2 separate regions of the Homo sapiens genome follow, and region 2 is linked to region 1. A link means that fine-mapping ties the variant in region 1 to the expression of a gene that starts in the linked region. Tissue or cell type: whole blood. Region 1 holds a variant in brackets; the other region holds the start of a gene. All regions are shown on one strand. Distances are from middle to middle.

Evidence for each region. PIP is the estimated chance that this variant, and not a neighbour inherited with it, causes the effect.
Region 2: ZDHHC5 starts here. The variant in region 1 is fine-mapped to the expression of ZDHHC5 in whole blood (INTERVAL, PIP above 0.99).

What each region holds. Positions count from the first base shown.
Region 1 is chr11:57,721,174-57,729,277 of GRCh38, forward strand. All of the region lies in intron 1 of TMX2 (thioredoxin related transmembrane protein 2), which reads left to right. All of the region lies in intron 1 of TMX2-CTNND1 (TMX2-CTNND1 readthrough (NMD candidate)), which reads left to right. Among named protein-coding and RNA genes, the nearest start is that of TMX2, 13 kb to the left of the region's middle. RefSeq lists enhancers at 3,814-4,315, 4,316-4,815. The variant A/G (reference allele first, on the strand shown) is at 3,581.
Region 2 is chr11:57,664,388-57,672,491 of GRCh38, forward strand. It overlaps ZDHHC5 (zDHHC palmitoyltransferase 5), which reads left to right and starts at 3,727. Exons shown (of 12, transcript NM_015457.3): 1 at 3,727-3,800; 2 at 7,634-8,104. RefSeq lists enhancers at 2,779-3,358, 3,528-4,167, 4,168-4,805, 4,359-4,428 and silencers at 3,559-3,798, 4,049-4,248.

The DNA.
Region 1 (8,104 bases):
TGCCTGCAATCCCAGCTACCTGGGAGGTTGAGGCAGGAGAATTGCTTGAACTGGGAGGCAGAGGTTGCAGTGAGCTGAGATAGTGCCACCGCACCCCAGCCTAGGTGACAGAGTGAGACTCCATCTCCAATCAATCAATCAATCAATGTTTTATTTAAATAAATAAATAAAGTTTTTTTTTTTTTTTTTTTTGAGATGGAGTTTTGCTCTTGTTGCCTAGGCTGGAGTGCAATGGCTCAGTCTCGGCTCACCACAACCTCAGCCTCCTGAGTAGCTGGGATTACAGGCATGTGCCACCATGCCCAGCTAATTTTGTATTTTTAGTAGACATGGGGTTTTTCCATGTTGGTCAGGCTGTTCTCAAGCTCCCAATCTCAGGTGATCCACCAGCCTCGGCCTCCCAAAGTGCTGGGATTACAGGTATAAGCCACTGTGCCTGGTCTAAAATGTTTTTTAAATAAAGCCAATTTACTTAGCGACTTAAGCCAATAAGCCTTCTTCATGGAAAGTCTCAGAGGTAATTTTCTAGGTTCAGAATACCAGATGATATAACCCTCACATTCCCCCAAAATATTTACTTTCAAAAATAGGCTAAGATAGCGAAAGACTCTTGTTTTCATAGACAGTTAAGGATGGTGTTTATGTGTGTGTTTCCTGTAGTATCCCACCAATACGTGGGGGGCTGCTAATCATAGACCTATTAATTTGAGACACCAGCTAGGCCCTCCCTGGATTGGACTTGCCCAGGACTAACCAGGCAATAAGAGTTGAGATTTCTTCCTTCTCACTGAAGTAATTTTATTTATTTATTTTTTAAATTAATTTTAAAAATTGAGGGGGGAGACAGGGTCTTGTTCTCTTACCCACGCTACAGTGCAGTGGCATGGTCGCAGTTCACTACAGCCTCAACCTGCTGCACTTAAGCCATCCTCCCACCTGAGCCTGTCAAGCAGATGGGAGTACAGGCACGTGCCAACATACATGCCCAGCTAATTTTTAAAAATCATTTGTGGAGAGGAGGTCTCACTGTGTTGCCCAGGCTGGTCTCGAACTCCTGAGCTCAAGCGATCCTCCCACCACAGCCTCCCAAAGTGCTAGGATTACAGGTGTGAGCCACCGCACCCAGCTTCAGTGAAGGAATTTTTTTAAAAGGAGAAGAAAAAGATAAAAGAGTTGAGACAATAAAATCAGGTGTGAGTCACTGCACCCGGCCCTCTTTCTCTTTTGAAAAGGCCTTGAAAGATGGCTCTCTCCTTCACCTTTTGTTGTGTCCTGTAACTTTTACTAATTATCTAAAGTAAGGGAGAAAAATTGTTTTTGAAAACAGGCAAATAAAGTATCTTTTGAACATGGCTTTTATTCTGCATGCCTGTTATATCTGTATCTTTATATGTGTCATATAGAAGTGATACTTTACTGCCAAACTACATGAAAGAGCTCTAATCAAGTAATTTAAAAAATGTAAGTGCTTATCACATTGGTAAAAGCTAGCTCAGATGCCTTTTAATTTACATAACCTTGGTAAAACTCTCCAGTGATTTAAAAATCTTAAAGTCATGTTTAAACCCTCAAGTTTTTTTTTCCCCCACTGGAAATTTGGGTTACTAGAAGTTAAGATAGTAGAAACATAAAATATGCTTTTATTAAAATTTTATTGGCTGGGGTGCAGTGGCACAAGCCTATAATCCCAGCACTTTGGGAGGCTGAGACGGGTGGATCACCTGAACTCAGGAGTTCGGGACCAGCCTGGTCAACGTGGCAAAACCCCATCTGTACAAAAATACAAAATTAGCTGGGCGTGGTGGCGTGTTCCTGTAATCACAGCTACTTGGGAGGCTGAGGCAGGAGAATCCCTTGAACCCGGAAAGCAGAGGTTGCAGTGAGCTGAGATTGTGCCAATGCACTCCACCCTGGAGGATAGAGCAAGACTCCGTCTCAAAGAAAATAAATAAATAAATAAACACACGGATGTCAACTCTCAAAAAAATGTAAGTTTCTTTTTTGTTAAGAAACTAAGTGGCTTGGGCTGGGTACAGTGGCTCACGCCTGTAATCCCAGCACTTTGGGAGGCCAGGGCGGATGGATCACCTGAGGTCAGGAGTTCGAGACCAGCCTGACCAATGTGATGAAACCCCATCTCTACTAACAATACAAAAAAAATTAGCTGGGTATGGTGGTATGCACCTGTAATCCCAGCTACTTGGGAGGCTGAGACGGGAGAATTGCTTGAACCCGGGAGGCGGAGGTTGCAGTGAGCCGGGATTGTGCCATTGCACTCCAGCCTGGGCAACAAGAGCAAAACTCCGTCTCAAAAAAAAAAATTCATCGCAAAAAAAAAAAAAGAAAGAAAGAAACTAAGTGGCTCACGCCTGTAATCCCAGCACTTTGGGAGACTGAGGCAGGCGGATCACAAGGTCAGGAGTTCGAGACCAGCCTGGCCAACATGGTGAAACCCTGTCCTACTAAAAAAAATACAAAAATTAGCCGGGCATGGTGGCGAGTGCCTGTAATCCCAGCTACTCGGGAGGCTGAGATGGGAGAATTGCTTGAACCCAGCAGGCGGAGGTTGCATTGAGCTGTGATCACACCACTGCACTCCAGCCTGGGTGACAGAGCAAGACTCTGTCTCAAAAATAATAATAATAATAATAATAATAATAATAAGCTAAGAGTTGCTTTATAATGAAGAAAATTATACAGATAAAACTAAATGGATTTTTTTTTTTTAAAAAGGAAAACAAAACAAGCCAGGGCAACAAAACTCTGAGCCCTATGGTTACCAAGAAAATAGTCAATATAGGGGAAGGGCAAAACCAAGTAACTATTTAAAACCAAAGGGTGTAATGTAAAGGAATTGTTCCATTTTGTAGATTGGTATCATTCAGCTTCTTTTTTTAAAAAAAACTTTAGTGGATTGTGAAAATAACTGCTTTAAGGACAAAATTCTTAATTTTAAATGCTACAGAATTTAAGAGCTTGTTTGAATTAATGCAGGACCCAGAACTCATTACTGAACAGTCACTGAGTATATATGATCCAAACGCAAAGGGGGTTTATTCTTGAAAAAGCAATCAGCCTAGTGGGCCAGATAATGCCATTATAAGGTCTCTTTGCCCTGAGAAGGGAACTGCCCAACTCTCCCTTTAAAATACCAAGTGAAGTACCCCAGATGAAGCAGTTAGTATGTTTCATATACAAGCCATGTTGCACTAGCTTTATGATAACTGGGATATCCTCCCACCAAATATGTCTATTACCCAGGTCATGGTAAATTTGGAGGTTAAGAGGGCCCGTTTTACATGGGTGCCCTCCTACAGAATCATAGGTCTGTTTAAGAAGCCTTACCAAATATCCTGTCCCTCATAGGTCTTACAGATGCAACCCCATGCTGGGAACGCAAACCCTTTGTACCAGAAAAGGTAAAATGGTCTGGGGATTAAAAAAAAAAAAAAAGGCTTCCTGGGACCAGAACATAAAAACATACAGGTTAATAGAACTGTAAAATGTAAGATGTTTAAACAAGCTTTATCTAAGGTAGTTGTAACCCCTTTTACCTAAATGTCTTATGAAAATGGGTACT[A/G]TAAGGCTGGGCATGGTGGCTCACACCTGTAATCCCAGCACTTTGGGAGGCTGAGGCGGGTGGATCACAAGGTCAAGAGTTCAAGATTAGCCTGGCCAAGGTGGTGAAACCGTGTCTCTACTAAAAATACAAAAATTAGCTGGGTGCGGTGGCAGGCGCCTGTAATCCCAGCTACTCGGGAGGCTGGGGCAGGAGAATCACTTTGAACTCGGGTGGCAGAGGTTGCAGTGAGCCAAGATCGTGCCACTGCACTCCAGCCTGGGCAACAGAGTGAGACTGTGTCTCAAAAAAAAAAAAAAAAAGAAAGAAAAGAAAAGAAAATGGGTTCTACATCTAATTGGGGGATGTTTTCCCCTTTCTAGTACTGTAAAACTGAAGATGTAAATCTGCTCATGTAAATCCTCCATTGCATAGCCTTTTGTGTGGAGCATTTATCGGGGCTGATGGCAAAAACTAAGCCCTGACTTTTTAAGTGCAGATTAAGCCATTATTTATCTCTCCCTGTTTTACTTCCAAGGAAACCGAAATCATGGTATTCTGAAGACTAGAAACATGAATCTCCCTCATTTGGTATCCCACTGACCCTGGATCTGTTTCACTGCTAATGCTCTGCTGCTAAAACTATACAAGCTGCCTCCCTTTGGGCCAGGGCACATGAGGTTATAAGGGCTGGTTTTGAGGGATAAAATTAGGTCAAGATTGGCTGGTCGAGGTGGCTCACGCTTGTAATCCCACCACTTTGGGAGACCGAGGCGGGTGGATCACTTGTGGTCAGGAGTTTGAGACCAGCCTGGCTAACAGAATGAAACCCTGTCTCTACTAAAAATACAAAAATTAGCCAGGTGTGGTGGCACATACCTGTAATCCCAGCTACTTGGGAGGCTGAGGCAGGAGAATCGCTTGAACCCAGGAGGTGGAGGTTGCAGTGAACTGAGATTGTGCCACTGCACTCCAGCCTGGGCGACAGAGTGAGACTCTTATCTCGAAGAAAAAAAAAAGGTCAAGATTAAACCCTCCAAATCAAGAAGGGGGTACTAAAAATGCCCAAACAGCTGGTAAAACAAAATTGGTTGCCTTCTAAACTATTATGTGTTACTTCTGCATCCACCCCAACCATAAAAATTTTCTGCTTACTATAAAATTAAGGAAAAATATTTACTAACATTATAAAGTACCATGGAACAAAGCCTCCTGGGTATAATACTCCAAATTATAAGTCGTGAAGATAAATATATCTACAGATACAGATATGTATATATACATATTTTAAATTATTTCTCAGAATGATGCTTATGTTTTGTATAGCTAATTGCTATAAGTCTGTAACAGAAACCAAGCTTACAGTAGCTCCACATAAAAGTTAAAAATAAGTCAGTCTGCCGGGCGTGGTGGTTCACTCCTGTAATCCTAGCACTTTGGTAGGCTGGGGTGGGCGGATTTCCTGAGGTCAGGAGTTCGAGACCACCCTGGGCAACATGGTGAAACCCCATCTCTACTAAAATACAAAAAATCAGCCAGGCGTGGTGGCATGCGCCTGTAGTCCCAGCTACTCAGGAGGCTGAGGTAGGAGAATTGCTTGAACCCGGGAGGCGGAGGTTGCAGTGAGCCGAGATCACGCCACTGCACTCTGGCCTGGGCGACAGAGCCAGACTCCATCTCCATAAAAGATAAGATTAAAAAAAAAACAAGTCAGTCTTGTAACTTTGTTTTTTGGGTTTATTGTTGGCTTTTTTTTTTACTTAATAATTTTAAGAAGTAATGAATGCCTGTCCACATCCATTCCTATATGGCCTAAAACAATTGACTATAAGTCTTTTGACTCTTAAGGCCCTCAGCCATAGGGAGTCCTGCCAAGGAAAAAACACTGTAGAATTATATGACTTCTCCTGTGACAAAACCTTTTCTCCCAAATACCAGTATATGGTGCAATACAAAAGTTGTGGGAAAAATAGGTTTCTACTTTTAATAAGTCTGTAACAATTTAAACACCAAGGACCAGGCATTTCTCCCATTTAATTTATATCCTCCCTCAGGATGCTATACCTATGGAGATAAATTGGCGGAAAGAGAGATTAAATTTATTACATTCTAATTTAATGTTGGTATCACAATTTTCAAATAAGATTTATCACAGGGTTCAAATAACCCTTATTAAGGAGTACAAACACACTGTAAGTCTATTCAAAGAATAGATGATGCATGCAGGGTTTTTCCTGGCTGATTGGGTTGTTTACTGCCCTCAGATTCTACCTATAACCCTGAGTGCCCAAATCTTCACTGTCTTTATGATATTTGTTATTATATTAGCATTAGGCATTTCTTGTAAATATTATGCCAGATACAGCAAAAGGCAAAGGCACAGTTAAAGACCCGGATCATAATAGCTCAGAAAATAGATCTGATCCGGGATTTTTTTTTAGACTAAGCCTGACTCCATTTCACCCCTTAAACAATTGGCTATTACATCAGGTCAGACCATGTCCTCCCCCCATTATCCAAATCGCTAATATTTAAAACTATTACCATCAAATCAAAGGACTCTAGAAACAAGCCTTCCTAGTCCTGTGGGACCCTGCCAGATAGCCAAATCAGACAACTCTAGGAATGAGGTTTCCTAGCACGTTGGGACCTGCTGGTGTTTGTTGGTCTACACATACATTCTATGGAATGCTTTTTGGCCAAGAGAGGGGACTGAGGACTAAGCTATGATTTTTTTTATCTTGCCCAAATTCCTTTCTAAGGGGTCTGGGTAATCATGCCCTAAAAACCATAAATTCTCATCAGATGGGTTTTATTTAACCCTGGATATCTATTGTGACTTACTTTCCTATCTGACTCTGGCATAACAAGGAAGAAACTAAAAATGTTTTACCCCAAAATCTGTTTCCTTCCCATACCTTGAAATTGCCCTACAAAGTCTCTTCTGGGAAAAATCCACATTCTGTAGAGAATCCCCTCTCCCCTTTGTTTTCCTTCCTTCTCAGATCCAGGAAATAATCAACTAAGAGCTAGGCACCCTTTTAAGTCCAATAAGAAACGATTTACAACCTGCTCTCTCTGAAGTCCGCTGAGAGCTTCCTCTGCACAATAAAACTTGGCCTCCTCAATCCTTTATCATAACCTGAACATTCCTTTCTGTGAATCCCAGGTCTTTAGACAAACTCAACCAATTGTCTGCCAGAAAATGTTTAAATTTACCTACAGCCCCGCTTTGAGTTGTCCTGCCTTTCTGAACGAAACCAATGTATTTCTTAAATGTATTTGATTGATGTCTCATGCCTCTCTAAAATATTAAGCTCTACCCAGACCACCTTGGGCACATGTTCTCAGGACCTCCTGAGGGCTGTGTCATGGGCCATGGTCACTCATATTTGGCTCAGAATAAATCTCTGAAAATATTTTACAGAGTTTCACTCTTTTTTTTTTTGAGACGGAGTCTCGCTGTGTCGCCCAGGCTGGAGTGCAGTGGCGCCATCTCGGCTCACTGCAAGCTCCGCCTTCCGGGTTCACGCCATTCTCCTGCCTCAGCCTCCCGAGTAGCTGGGACTACAGGCGCCCGCCACCATGCCTGGCTAATTTTTTATATTTTTAGTAGAGATGGGGTTTCACTGTGAGTTTGACTCTTTTTGGCAACAGTAATATGGCTCCCAACGTTGGCCTCAGAGAAGACTCAGAACCCCAAAGGAGTTGCCCGAGACTGGAGGTAAGGTACCAGCAGGGGCCCATTGAAGCCCCACTGAGTTCGAGCTTCTCCTTCGGTGGAACTGTTAAGTCGTCCTGAGCCCCGGACCTCCCTTCAAGGGCTGATGGTTCTTGATTTTTTCTGAGCTGGTTTTTTGCTAGGAAGTTGTTGTTTAAGGATCCTGATTGTAGTTTGGGTATGCATTCTGAAGGGAATTCTCTATTGCTTTTTCTCCTAAAATTTATCTTGATTCGGTTCATCTGTGTCCATTTGTGTGAGGAACTGAACTGTTGCTTTCATAGAGACTGAGTTTTTCAGCTCTGAAGAGAAAGGGTGTTTGCTCTTCCCAGCTGAAAGGTGCCCCTGGGTGACTGGGGGCTTTGTGGGAGTGTCCAGGGGTTGACCCCCAAGACGTACAGCGGCCCTAAAGGGAAATCCCTTTAGGGATTAATCCCCAAAAACAATTAATTTAAAAAATGGCTCATCCAGGAAACACACATGAGGGCTGATCACCCAGCGTTTTGAGCCCTCTCAGAGGTCACAGACCTCTGGAGAGAGACACTTAAGAGGGCAGAAACGACTCAGTGGTGACACTGTGGAGTCCTGCCTGCAAGCAGCACGCATCAATCCACCACACATCAATCCACCACACAAGAACCCTAGGCTACAGCTCAGCTCCTCTAAGGAGAAAAAAAAAAGGCGAGAAACAAATCTAAGACTAAGGAGAAAATGAGGAGAATGTCCCCTTTTCGGGTCCTTCATAGGTTTTATGGCACCTCTACTTGCCAGAATTGATATAAAATGGAAGTAATATGGTCTTTGTGCACATTTGCATTAAGAAA
Region 2 (8,104 bases), 57 kb before region 1:
TCAGCCTCCTGAGTAGCTGAGTAGCATGCACCACCATGCCTGGCGAATTTTTGTATTTTTAGTAGAGATGGGGTTTTGCCATGTTGGCCAGGCTGGTCTCGAACTCCTGACCTCAAGTGATCCATCCGCCTCGGACTCCCAAAGTGCTGGGATTAGCCTGGCTGATTACTTTACATTTTGAAAAGATCACTGCTTTGTGGAGAGTGGGTTATAGGGCAAGTGTAAAAGCAAGGACAGTAATTAGGAGAGTTTTGTAAAAGTGCAAATGTGAGAAATGGTGGGGGATGAAATACTAGGGCAGCAGAGGTAGAGCTGGTGAGAGGATATTCTGAAGGCAGGACTTCATAACGGAGTGGTGAGGAAAACGATGGAATCAAGGATGCATCCTGGATTTTTTTTAACAAGACACACTAGGTTAGACATGAGATTGGGAAAACTCAGGGAGTTGTCCCCCTGAGGGACAAGGGAAACTCGAGGTTTTTGGCAGTGTTAAATATGAGCTATTAATTGTCCATGGGTGGCGGAGGTTGCAGTGAGCTGAGATCGCGTCACTGCACTCCAGCCTGGGTAACAGAGCAAGACTCCATCCCCCAGCACCAGAAAAAATGCAGGAGCGAAGGAGATAGGATCCACAGCACAAAGGGAAGAACTACCCTTTAACACATACAGAGACATTTCACAAGGACAGGAGGAAAGAGCAGTATTTAAACACAAAGAGGTTGACCAGGAGCAGTGGCTCAGACCTGTAATCCCAGCACTTTGGGAGGTCGAGGCAGGCAGATCACTTGAGCTCAGCAGTTGGAGACTACCCTGGCCAACATGGTGAAACCCTAAAAACACAAAAATTGGGAAATGCATGTTCTAGCTTTCTGTGTGCTTAGGTGCCCATGCTACTGAGGGTCTAAGTCCAGGCAGCCGAAGAGTGTGGTGAGCAAGATGAACAAAGATGCGCAGATGAGAGAAGCCATTAACATATTAAAGTAATTTAAAGTTTGGGTGGTCTGGATATCATACTGTTTTAGCCTAGATTTTACTCTGGATACTTTTCAGAAGTAGCTGGCACTTTAAACCATATGTTCTATTAAACGTTCTTTCCAAGAAATATCTTGAGTGATCCCAAGGAAAACTGGACAAGTGGAATCTCTGTCTTTCAACTTTGGGATAGTGATTATACCTCTGTTAGTGCTCATCCACCTAACAAAGCTTGGCAATCCAAGTTAGTATCCCAGGGGAGTTTAGTTTGGTTGGATGGTGGAAGACTGATTTTTTTTTTCCATTTAGCACTGTCTAGCCAAGAGACACCACTATTTACAAGTTCTTAGACAGCTGAAAGGAAAATAAAAATGCCTAATTTGTGGAGGAAATCAGGAAGTCTAAAAATCCAAGAAAAATATTGCAACAGAAAAATGAAAGCTGACTTCATCTTAAAGAAACATGGCTTACAGGTAGAAAATGCCAATATCAGGCCGGGCACTGTGGCTCACACCGGTAATCTCAGCACTTTGGGAGGCCGAGGTGGGAGGATCATTTGAGGTCAGGAGTTCCAGACCAATGTGGCCATCATGGTGAAACCCCATCTCTACTAAAAATACAAATATTAGCCAGGTGTGGTGGCACATGCCTGTGATCCCAGCTACTCAGGAGGCTGAGGCATGAGAATTGCTTGAACCCGGGAGGAGGTTGCCATGAGCTGAGATCGCGCCACTGCACTCCAGCCTGGGTGACAGTGTGAGACTCCCTCTCAAAAAGTAAAAAATAAAATATCAATATTGTATCTTCAATAATTTACCTTTCATATGGTCTAAAGAGGTTTTTGTTTTGTTTTGAGACGGAGTCTTGCTCTGTTGCCCAGGCTGGAGTGAAGTTGTGTGGTCTCGGCTCACGGCAACCTCTGCCTCCCGGGTTGAAGCAATTCTCCTGCCTCAGCCTCCCGAGTAGCTGGGATTACAGGCTCCCCCGACCATGCCCGACTAATTTTTGTATTTTTAGTAGAGGGAGTTTCACTATGTTGGCCAGGCTGGTCTTGAGCACCTGACCTCGTGATCCGCCTGCCTTGGCCTCCCAAAGTGCTGGGATTACAGGTGTGAACCACCACGCCAGGCCAGGTCTGTTTTAAAAATATAAAGTCGTTATAAAGAACTCTCAAGTGTGTTGCAATAAATGCTGGATTGACGCTGTTAACAAGAATAAACTAGAACTTATAATATATGCCATGTCAGAGAAGGAACTAGATTCCAGAAAACAGAAGGTAGTTCTCTTTTACCTTACTGCCTAATGCTAGTGTCAGAACCACAGTAAAGCCAGCAACATTTGAGACCAAACCCGAGGACAGTCCTCAGGATTTTACAGGTGAGGGGCCTCGGCTTCAGGGAAGTGGCTTGTGAAACACCTTTTTGAGGGACCATTATGTAATAGCTAGAGTTGCTTTCGAAAAAAGAAATAGCCTCGAGCCGAATGGGGAGAGAACATGGGGCATTGCTATTGGGTTCACAGCTGTCTTGGGCTAATCAGGGCAAAGCGTAGCACTATGACCTATGCAGAGTTAGCTCGCCAGGGACAGTAGCTATTCTAGAGAACCTTTTGCTTTTAGCTTTGTATTCTAGGATTGGGTGAGGTGAGGGATGCGGGCGCCCATCCCACGTGTGACAGTGGGAAACTAATGGAATTCAGGGAGTTCACTTCCCGGCTCGCACTCCGGGGGCGGGAGGGTGCTGCCACCGCCTCAGGTCGCGCGCTCCTTAGGCTTCCCTCTCACGGTTAGCGCTACGGCTCCAAGGCTGGCGCCTGCTCTTCTTCATCTCCCTCCCCGGCCCTTGGCAGGAGCCTCGCCCTACATTGGCTCTTCAAGTCCGGGCGTCCCCTTCATGTGGGAGACACAGCCCAGACCATTCCATCGCCCTGGATTCTGCCCGGACCAGCGACCTCGCCGGACTGAAGATTTCTCCAGCAAGATTGTTTTAAATAAAGTTTTTGCCATCAAAAAAAAAAAAAAAAAAAAAAAAGGAGATGGGAAGGAGAAGAGGGAGGCCTAGTCGCCAAATGGTTGGCCAATCCGCCGCGAAGGGGCTGAAGCAGGAAGCGGCGATAGTCGTCGGTAATTGGCTGCGCTGGAAGCCTGTCTGGACTGTACCACCTCAGTAGGAGAGGGGTTGCTGAATTCGAGAAGGTAGCTGCTTGCTTTTGAGTACTTCTAGTACACACACATAATTCTTTTCTTATTTCCGGGGGTTTTTGCTTGGATTCAGTGGGAATACAACAGGACGCAGGAGAAGGGAAGACTCGCCTGGCCATTTCCTCATTCCTGACTCCTGTGCATTAGGCCAATCCTTGTCTCTTAGTTGTCCCCGCAACCCCACGGCCTTACGTGCGCGCTCTCGTCTTCTCGCGTGCGTACGTCGTTGTGTTGCTGCAGCCAATCAGGCCGCGAGGTCGCCGCGGTCGCCAGGGTTCGCGCGCACGCCCCAGATCGGAGTCGGGGTGGGGGCTATGGGTGAATGGGAGAGTGAGCGGGGTTGGGCGCGGCAGCGCGAGCCGCATGAATGAGACAAACGTGCGCCGCGCGAGACGTCGCGCGAGCCCGGACTAGGGAGCCAATGGGAACGCTGGAAGGGTTCGAGACCCGGCACTGAGGGCAACGGCCGCGCGCCGGCTCCGAGACGAGCGACGCCTGGCGGGAGCGCGCGGCAGCGGGGCGGGCGTGGAGCGTGCGGGGGCCGCGCGCTGCTTCTCTGAGGCAGGACGGCACTGCCGGGAGGCGGCGGTGACAACGACGGCGGTGGTGACGGGCACCGGGCTCGCGGGTGAGTGCGGAGGACACCGGTCCCTGCGGAACCGGAAGTGCCGTACCAGCGAGGTGGGAGGGGAGGGTGACCTCTAGGGAAGGGGGACCGAAGACGGGGAGGGTATTAAGGCCCTATTTCTCCTCCGGGCCGGGTCTTCCAACCGCGGCGGGACCCATGGGCCTTGGAAACGGACGACGAGTAGAGGCCGGGGATCCACGACCGCCAGGGCTCGGAACGGGTTAGAGACGGCCACTCAGCTCGAGACCGCGGTCCCCGGTGCCTGGCGCCCAGCCGCCGCCCCTTCCGCCCCCGGCCCTGCGCCCTCGGGCTCTGCGGTCCCCGCAGCCCGCTCTCTCAACCTCGGTGGGCCTGGCCGCCGTGGATTCCTTCTTTTCGGTTTCAGCGGTCGTCAGCCCTGCCCCAACGGGTGATTCTCCTTTCCCCAGTCCCGTGGTGGGGACCGGGTGCTGTTTCCCTTTTACCGCTCTGCGGTTCGAGTCCCTCGCTCCACTCTGCTGATACTTATTTTGGCTCAAGCTTCATCCTGTTACCTGTTCTCTCTCACCCGTCCGCTTCCTCCTCCTACCGCCACCAGCCGAGTGCTCCATGCGTTTAGTACTTTGTACTTTTTAAAGTGGAGCCCGAATGCGTTTGTCAATATTTTACCTATATTTGGGGCAGGCAGGTGGAAAGTGTTTTACCCACTTGGCCAAATGAAACACTGAAATAAGAAGTAAGAAAGTTGCTAAAAGTTAGGAAGGCAGTTGTAGGATCACATATACGTTATACGCTAGACTATTTTTTGCCTTGGATTCTTCACTTCCTGGTTAATGCCATCTTGACCAAGTTGATCTAACATTTGCATATCATCCTTCTATCTCAGTATACCTCTGTCCTGGATCAAATATCTTCAGAATGCTCATTATCACCCATTGTATAAACTTAATGTTTACAAAATTATATTGCCATGTATTTTGCTACCTCGGTATATAATGATAACACCCACATTAAACTTCTTGGCTCTTTCTCCCATACCTTGACATGTGAATTATTCCATGGTACCTCCATTACTGTGCATTTAGATTTACTCTATTGTACTGTTACACCGCTTATTTCAACAAAAAATAGTTGTGTTGTCCTTGGTACTGCTGGTATCCACCTATTTAAGGAAATACCTGTATTAAACCTTATTAAAGCCTTCAAACCACATATCCTGTATTGTTTGTTTTACATATACATATTTCCATTTCATAGTTTACTCTGTGCCTCAATATGGCATACATATTACTTTTTTTCTCATTTTTGAGACGGAGTCTGGCTCTGTCGCCCAGGCTGGAGTGCAGTGGCTGCTATCTTGGCTCACTGCAACTTCCACCTCCCGGGTTCAAGCGATTCTCGTGTCTCAGCCTCCCTAGTAGCTGGGATTTCAGGCATGCCCCATCACGCCCTGCTCATTTGTTTGTATTTTTAGTAGAGACAGGGTTTTGGTATGTTGGCCAGGCTGGTCTCGAACTCCTGACCTCAAATGATCCGCCCGCCTCGGCCTCCCAAAGTGCTGGGATTACAGGCGTGAGCCCCCGTGCCCAGCTGGCATACATATTCTTGTATACTTTTTTGATACTAGTATGGATTCAAACTGTTGACTCTGATGAACCATACTCACCCTTGTGGTTTCATCCTAGTATCTGCAGCACATTCTTTTGCTAAGAATTGGTTCATCTTTATTTATACCCAATAAATTGTTAGGTTTTTGATTTCCCTTCTACTGTGTAGCCCCCAAGCATCTCAGATGCTGTTCTCTTTTGTGTTCCCAGTATTATACTCCCAAAATTGCATGGCCTTTCATGACTCTGTATTACTATGTCAATATTAGTCCATGTGACTTTTTTCCTGTGGAAAATATATGAAACAATATATAGTATCTAAATGATATTCTACTCTAGATAAAATTTAAGTAGTATAATTTTCCATCTTTTCTAGTCTTTGGGATTTTGAGGGAAAAGTTTGCTTTAATAGTACATATTGGCTGGGCAGAGTGTCTCACACCTGTAATCCCAGCACTTTGGGTGAGGAGGCAGATCACCTGGAGGTCAGGAGTTCGAGACCAGCCTGGGCAACATGGTGAAACCCCATCTCTACTAAAAATACAAAATTAGCTGGGTGTGGTGGTGCCCTCCTGTAATCCCAGCTGCTCGGGAGGCTGAGACAGGAGAATTGCTTGAATCCGGGACTCGGAGGTTGCAGTGAGCTGAGATCACACCATGCACTTCAGCCTGGGTGACAGAGGGAAACTGTGTTTCAAAAAAAAAAAAAAAGTACATATTGTCTACAAATCAAGAGTTTGCTTTTGTTAACAAAGTTACTGAGGCCTACATTCCAAATGTTAGGCTTCCATTCCTGTAGGAAACTGAGAGTTAAATAATCATTAAATCAGGGACTAGAGAGGATTTATGTTTTCTAGGACTATAACAGTTTCTTAGAATCTTTTGGCGCTCACTGTATTCTAATACTGCTGTTTGGCCCTCTGAAACCCTAATTTTAAAGAGAGAAATGAATCGTAAGGGAAGGCACCTTTGCCTTCCATGCCATAGGTGAGAGAGGAAGTGGTACATTATAGGGCACATTTATATTTTGTTATCTGAATCTTCTGATTTTTTTTTTTTTTTTTTTGAGACAGAGTCTTGCTCTGTTGCCCAGGCTGTAGTGCAGTGGCTCACTGCAACCTCCGCCTCCTGGGTTCAAGTGATTCTCCTGCCTCAGCCTCCTGAGTAGCTGGGACTACAGGCGCCCGCCCGGCTAATTTTTGTATTTTTAGTAGAGAAGGGAATAAAACTACTTTCTTTTAAAATTCTAACTTAAAATTTTTGGCTTGCAGATTCCAAGTTATCATCTCTGGGCAGGTAGTGGATGAAAAGGTAGAAAGGGTTTGTGTCACCAGAGGGGCATGTGACCTCTTGAGTTCTGAACCTGAGGTGATTCAGTGGAATGTCCTCGGGCATTCTGTAGCCTTCAATTTTAAAGAGTGGGATAAGGGACTGCGTCACCAGATAATGTGAGTAAAGTGCTTTTAGATCACCAGATGAAAAGCATTTTATAAAATCCCAAGGTGCTGGTGTTAGTTTGTTATTGTCATCAACAGAAATAATTGTTACTTTTAATCATATTGGGGCAGGTGGGGCTCAGTTACCTTAGGCCAATATAGGAATAATAAACTGTTGAATTGGGAAAAAAGAACCAACCCTATGCTATGCTTATTCAGTTTCTCATAGAGGGCATCATGGCTTTCTCTGCAAGAACATTTCTTACCCAGTGTTCTAATGGGTGATTCCAAAAGACCAAAAATTCAGCTTCTACCTCTTCAGGATTGTAACTAAAAAGCATAGAGGAGCAAAAGAAACACACAGAGAAAGAAAATGAGACTTGCTTTCCTAATTTTGAGGTTAATTTTTTTCTTTTTTCACTATAACAATAAACACTCTTCTTGTCCAAAGAGAAATCTTTGTTCTAGGACTGCCCTTCACTGCTGTGCCCTTGTTTGTGATTTTGATATTCTTGGTATTTGTTACTACCATCTATGTCAGGTGAGATGGGCCCCTTACAAGAGCTAGTCCTTTGATGTCCTTTGGCCAGGTGAAGCCATGTTCTGCTTCCAATCTGAACAGAGCAAAGGATTCTCAAGTCAGTTTTCCTCTGAATTCAGAGTCCCTTCTTACCCACATACATGTAAGTGAAATGGAAAACAGTCTTTCTTTCAGAAAGTACTTTTTAACAGCAGCCTGTGGAATTTTAGCCTTGGTGTCTAAGAAATACCCTGAAAGAATTCTCTGATAAAGATACTTGTTTTTCTCCAGGTGAGACACAGTAACCTGGTTGAACTCTGCATCTGGAAAGCTGAAGACTGAAGAAAGATAAGAGACATTGACTAGTCTGGAAACAGGGACATCTTTGGAACTTCGTTTTCATCCACAGTAAACTTTTGAAGTGTCATCAATTGGAATTGATTTCTTCATCTTATTCTGCCTATTGGGAAGAACATGGCTTCAAGGATTTTAAGTTTCCCTTTAGTTTTACATGAACTTTGTAGGAAACAGAGCCCTTAAAGGGCTTGGGAATAACAAGAAGAGATTGAAGACAGAGAAGCTTGCCCTGTTTTCCTTGCCCCTTCAAAGAAAAGGATTTACAGCTCAAACTTAGAACAGCTGTTGTCCAGCTTTAGCCATCAAGAGAGAAATAAATTAAACCACCATTGCCAGACTACAAGCCCTGGTGAAGTCAGGGTGTGGGAGTGGTGGCATTGAGAAGACTACCTAAAAGAGACAAAG